Linked DNA regions of Homo sapiens: region 2 is linked to region 1. Evidence: fine-mapped expression QTL. A gene starts in region 1. The other region holds a variant in brackets. All regions are shown on one strand. Distances are from middle to middle. Region 1 holds the start of ANO7 (anoctamin 7). Region 2 overlaps ANO7 (anoctamin 7).

What was found.
Region 2: its variant is fine-mapped to the expression of ANO7 in cerebral cortex (GTEx, PIP above 0.99). The same link has a PIP of 0.9 or more in anterior cingulate cortex, cerebellar hemisphere, left ventricle and nucleus accumbens.

Annotation. Positions count from the first base shown.
Region 1 is chr2:241,187,558-241,190,446 of GRCh38, forward strand. It overlaps ANO7 (anoctamin 7), which reads left to right and starts at 1,120. Exons shown (of 25, transcript NM_001370694.2): 1 at 1,120-1,209; 2 at 2,500-2,614. The coding sequence starts at 2,507. It overlaps LOC105373971 (a long non-coding RNA gene), which reads right to left and starts at 865. Exons shown (of 3, transcript XR_924064.3): 1 at 719-865. RefSeq lists enhancers at 390-1,074, 1,075-1,758, 2,692-2,889.
Region 2 is chr2:241,216,012-241,218,900 of GRCh38, forward strand. ANO7 (anoctamin 7) reads left to right here. Exons shown (of 25, transcript NM_001370694.2): 19 at 82-227; 20 at 1,675-1,880; 21 at 2,228-2,370. Among named protein-coding and RNA genes, the nearest start is that of ANO7, 29 kb to the left of the region's middle. RefSeq lists an enhancer at 287-818 and a silencer at 1,453-1,582. The variant C/T (reference allele first, on the strand shown) is at 1,661.

The DNA.
Region 1 (2,889 bases):
CCAGTGCAGTTGTGCATGGAGGGCGAGGAGCACGGGTGGTAGGTTCTCAGACACTGCCAGGCACCAAGGAGGAAAGGGGGAGGGGGAGGGAGAGGGGAAGAGGAGGGGCGGGGAGAAAGGATAGGAGGAGAAGGAGGAGGAGAGGGAGAAGTGGGGGGAGGGGGAGAAACAGGAGGAGGGGAGTGGGGAGAAAGGAGGAGAAGGAAGAGGAGAGGGAGAAGTGGGGGGGAGGGGGAGAAACGATAGGAGGAGGGGGAGTGGGGAGAAAGAGGAGGAGGAGGAGGAGTTGGGGGGAGAAATGATAGGAGGAGAGGGAGAGGGGAGAACGGATAGGAGGAGAAGGAGAGGGAGGAGTAGGGGGGAGAAACAATAGGAGGAGAAGGAGGAGAGGGAAGGTGGGGAGAAAGGATAGGAGGAGGGGGAGAAAGGAGGAGGGGGAGGAGGGCTAGGAGGAGAAAGAGGAGGGCTAGGAGGAGAATGAGGACGAGGAGGAGGGCGGAAAGGATGGGAGGAAGGCTAGGACCCCTCCTGTCCTTTTGCAGATGGGGCCCTGAGCATGGGATGTGCCTGAGGTCACCCCTCAGGCATTAGCAGAGCCAGCAGTGTGATCTGGGTCTCCCAATCTCCCCAGCCCCCGGGTGAAACCCTGGCCCACCACTCAGCACATGCTACGTAACCTCAAGGAGCCTCAGTTTCCCCCCACATAAACAGAGCTTACGAGGTCTGCCTGGCAAGGCTTCCAGCAGAGGTGGCACTTGTGGCTGTTCCTGTGGAATCCCACCTCCTCGAGACCCTCCAAGGCAGCAACTATGACAGCTGATGCCAGCCCTGAAATCTCTAAGCAAATAAGGTTCCCAGGAGGACGGCAGCATTTGCATGCGGGTGTGTGAAAGCCCAGCCAAGTGGGCTGCCTCTGTCTGCAGCTCTGAGCCCCACACCCCCTATTTAAACAAAGATAGATCCTGCTCCAGGAGCCGGGAAGCCTTGCCCTGGCCAGCTGTGCTGGGCACCTCCCCTGCCTGCTTCCTGGCCCACTTGCAGGCAAGGTGAGGGCATGCGAATGGCTGCCACTGCCTGGGCGGGGCTCCAAGGGCCACCCCTCCCCACCCTCTGTCCCGCAGTGAGGACGGGACTCTACTGCCGAGACCAGGCTCACGCTGAGAGGTGGGCCATGACCTCCGAGACCTCTTCCGGAAGCCACTGTGCCAGGTGGGGACCCAGCCTAGACGTGTGGGCCACAGGGAGAAGGTGGAGCGTTGGACTCTAGGGAGGCAGGGCGGCACCCCAGCCCACCGGGACTTTCACACACCCTGGCCTGTGGGGAGGCAGTGCCAGGGCCCGCCCTGGTCCCCAAAGCCCCTTGGGGCACGAGGAGGGACACACACTCAGTGCGGCTCTGGACGGGGTACACCCAGCTGGGGTTGGCTTCCTGCCTGCCCAGGGGCTCCCCCATGGAGCAGGTCCCTTCGTTGGGGTGGGGGGCATCCCCATTCTTTCTGCAGAGAGCTCTGAGGAGGGGCCCGCCTGCCCACCACAGAAGGATGGGGGCATGAGGGGCTGCTGGGTGGCCGAAACTCCTCGGGGACTTTCCTCCAGGAACACCCCACAGTCCGTAGTGAGGCTCCCAGCCTGGGGCCGGGGCCGAGTCCTAACACTGAGACCTGGCTCGGGCTTCAGGGTTAGGCAGGTGCAGGCGGCCCAGGCTCAGTCTCTGTCCCTCTGGGCCTCCGCTAATGTGAAGTGAAGGGTAGAACTAGAAGGCTGCCCCTCCGACCTCCTGCGGCGCCTCCATGGTCACACCCTCCGGTCATCGTCGCAGCTCCAAATGCCAGCCCCAGCTCGAACCCTCTCCTTCCAGGGCCACAGATGTCGTGCTCCTGGCCCCGTTTTGCCAGCCCAAGACTAGGAGCCACGGCACCTGTCCTCCCACAGAGAGAGACCCCCGGGGCGAAGGTGCGGGAGGAAGCTGGGACCCCCAAGAGTTGTGAGGCCGGGCTCCATCAGGCCCGCCTTGCTGGGGAGCTCAGGGCCTATGGGTCCTGGCACTGGGTCCTCAGGCCATGAGCGAAGGCAGGCGACTTGAGGGGTTTCCTGTCCCTGGCTCACATGGCTCCACCCTACGGATAAGAGAGGGAGAGGTGTCTGTACTCCAGGCCCACCTTTCTGGGCCTTCTCAGGCTCCACTGAGTACCCAGGCAGAGTGGACGGCATTCAGGGCTGGGGGACACGGGCACTCACTGGATGGACAGACAGACGCCTGCTGTGCCAGGCCTGCCAGACGCTCCCGCCCCGGCACTGGTTTCTTCCTGGAGCTCGTGGCTGGCTAGGGGGTTCTCCATGTGCTCATGGCCAGGAGAGTCTGCCGAGCCAGCCCAGCCCCATTCTACTCCGAGTCGAGTCTGTAAAGTGAGCTCACTGCAGGCAGTGTGGTGGCCCCAGGAACGGGTCTCACCCATCCCCTCTCTGACCCCCATCCCCACCCGGCCTTGCTGGGTGCAGGAGCAGGATGCTGCGGCGACGGGCCCAGGAAGAGGACAGCACCGTCCTGATCGATGTGAGCCCCCCTGAGGCAGAGAAGAGGGGCTCTTACGGGAGCACAGCCCACGCCTCGGAGGTAACAGCACCCAGGAGACTGTGGTGCGACTTGAGAGGTCCTCCCCTGCCTGGGTCTATGCCCCCACCCTGGGCCCAGAGCCTCTGGGGGTGGATGGGCATCACCGTGTTTCTCCTGCATCCCCCGGCAACCCCCAAGCCCTCGCCACCCAGTCCTCAACACACACAGTCAGATCACCGCTCTCCTGGCCTGGCCTGGCTGTGGAGAACCGAGCAGAACCCACTGATGTTCAGACAGGAGCTCCAGGAGGGTAAGGGGGGCCTGGCCAGGCAAAG
Region 2 (2,889 bases), 28 kb after region 1:
GCCACATCTCCCCCAAGGACTATAGCAGCCACTGAGACCCATGTTGGATCAAAGGCCATTTTCCTGTATTCCCGTCCCCAGGAAGCTAAAGGGCTGGTGGCAGAAGTTCCGGCTTCGCTCCAAGAAGAGGAAGGCGGGAGCTTCTGCAGGGGCTAGCCAGGGGCCCTGGGAGGACGACTATGAGCTTGTGCCCTGTGAGGGTCTGTTTGACGAGTACCTGGAAATGGGTAGGAGCCCGTTAGCAGCTGCGGCAATGGCTGGCGCCGTGGGCAGGGATGGGTGGCCACTCTGCTCAAGGGCCTCCCAGCCTGACATTCCTGTGTCTGCATCTGCCCTGAAATGTGCTGTGGGGGTGGGGTGGGAACAGAGGGTCGGGCCTGTGGAGAATCCAGAAAGGAATTCTTTTCCCCTGAGAGTGCCCAAGAGGGTTGGCTGAGGACAGAGGGGCACCGGCACGGGGAGGAGGCCCCCGCGGCCGTTGCAGAGCTCCCCTGGGGTCCCTGGACCTAGAAAGCATGGGCCAGAGCAAGGGAAGAATTAGGAGAGCAGGCCCTGGGGGCTGACAGAAGTCCTCCAAGGGTGAAGCCACAGTGGGAGGCAGCGGCCTGGAGAGCCAATGTTCCCAGAAATCTCAATGCCCACGCTATTTGCAGACCTACCACTGTCACCTTACCAGGTGGTGGCCAGTGCCAGGGGCTCACTGCCTGCACGGGTGGTGCACTCTGGAGGGTGGGTCTGTATCACCTGTGCCGTCCCTGCAGTGCAGGGTCTGACTCTGAGCTGACAAAAGGGAGAAGGAATCATCAGGCAGTTTGTTTGTTTGTTTTTGTTTTGTTTTTTGAGACGGAGTCTCCCTCTGTCGCCCAGGCTGGAGTGCAGTGGCGCCATCTCGGCTCACTCCAACCTCCACCTCCCAGGTTCAAGCAATTCTCCTGCCTCAGCCTCCCGAGTAGCTGGGATTACAGGCGCCCACCACCACGCCCGGCTAATTTTGTATTTTTAGTAGAGGCGGAGTTTCACCGTGTTGGCCAGGCTGGTCTCGAACTCCTGACCTCAGGTGATCCACCTGCCTCAGCCTCCCAAAGTGCTGGGGATTACAGGCGTGAGAAACTGTGCCCGGCAGGCAGCTCTTAACCTAGCAAGCGGGCATGTGAGCCGGCAGGCCCCGGAGCTCCCCAGCGTAGCCGCGGCATCTGTGGAAAGGGAGCAGGCCAGTTCCCAGGGCGAGGAGTGGACGCCCTGACCCTCCTCCACTGAACCCTGGACCCCAATGATCTCACTAGTAATTCTCGGCGAAGACCCAGAAGCCCCTTCCAAAGAGCCCTCTCCTAACAGCTCCCCTGTGGGGTGACTGGAGAAGCTGGTTGTAAAATCAGGAGCAGGTTTCTGCCCCAACGCCTGCCCTGAGTTAGTTCCTGAGCTCACCGAGCCGGAGAAGGCCCGTGACCAGCCAGAAGCACGGAGCGCAGGGCAGGACAGCCGGCCTGAGGCCGGTCAGGAGAGGCGGCCCTGGCGCTGCGCGGTCCAGGACGAGGGAGACCAGGAGGTGGGGGCGGAATGAGCCGCGATGGGGTGGCGGCACCACGTGGACTGGCCGGTCCTCCGCGGGGGGCGCGTTCCGAGGGCTGAGGGCGGACGGTGGCGGAGAGCCCGGCCGTGA[C/T]CCCCTCCCCGCAGTGCTGCAGTTCGGCTTCGTCACCATCTTCGTGGCCGCCTGTCCGCTCGCGCCGCTCTTCGCCCTGCTCAACAACTGGGTGGAGATCCGCTTGGACGCGCGCAAGTTCGTCTGCGAGTACCGGCGCCCGGTGGCCGAGCGCGCCCAGGACATCGGCATCTGGTTCCACATCCTGGCGGGCCTCACGCACCTGGCGGTCATCAGCAACGTGAGGCCCGGGCGGGAGCGCGGGGCGGGGCGGGGGCGCGCAGGGGCGGGGGCGGGGGGGGCAGCGGGGGCGCGCAGGGGCGGGCCGGGGGCAGCGGGGGCGCGCAGGGGCGGGGCTGGGGGCATCGGGGGCTCGTAGGGGCGGGGCGGGGGGGCGGCGGGGGCGGGCAGGGGCGGGGGGCAGCGGGGGCGCGCAGGGGCGGGGCGGGGGGGGCAGCGGGGGCGCGCAGGGGCGGAGCGGGGGCGCGCAGGGGCGGGGCGGGGGGGCAGCGGGGGCGCGCAGGGGCGGAGCGGGGGCGCGCAGGGGCGGAGCGGGGGCCGCCTCGCGCTGACCCCTCCGGCGCCCAGGCCTTCCTCCTGGCCTTCTCGTCCGACTTCCTGCCGCGCGCCTACTACCGGTGGACCCGCGCCCACGACCTGCGCGGCTTCCTCAACTTCACGCTGGCGCGAGCCCCGTCCTCCTTCGCCGCCGCGCACAACCGCACGTGCAGGTGAGCCCCGCGCCAGGTGGAGGGGGCCGCGGGCGCACGAGGACGAGGCGGAGCGGGGCTCGGGTGGGGTGGGGGTGCGGCGGTGGGGAGCCGGGAGGGGCGGGCGCCGCCGGGCAAGGCCGGGGGAGGGGGGGAGCTGGGGGCGCCGTGGGCAGGGGCTGGGGGGAGGTTCCCCGCGGTAAGGGACGGAGCTTTGCGGGGCTGGAGGGCAAATCGTGGATTCTAGGTGAATTGCTAGTTGGTCATAGTGTAGCAGGACGAGTCGCAGACAGAACTCCTCAGACACCGGATTAAAGAAGGAAGAGGTTTTTTTATTCGGCCGGGGGCGTCGGCAGACTCGTGTCTTCAGAGCGGAGCTCGCCGAAAAAGAAATTCTTAGCCCTTTGAAGGGCTTACAACTCTAAGGGTCTACGTGAAAGAGTCATAATAGATCAAGTAAGCGTGAGGAACGTGACTGTGGGCTACATACATCAGCTAACGGTACAAAAAGTTTTACGGTGCTTTCTCATACAGCGTCTG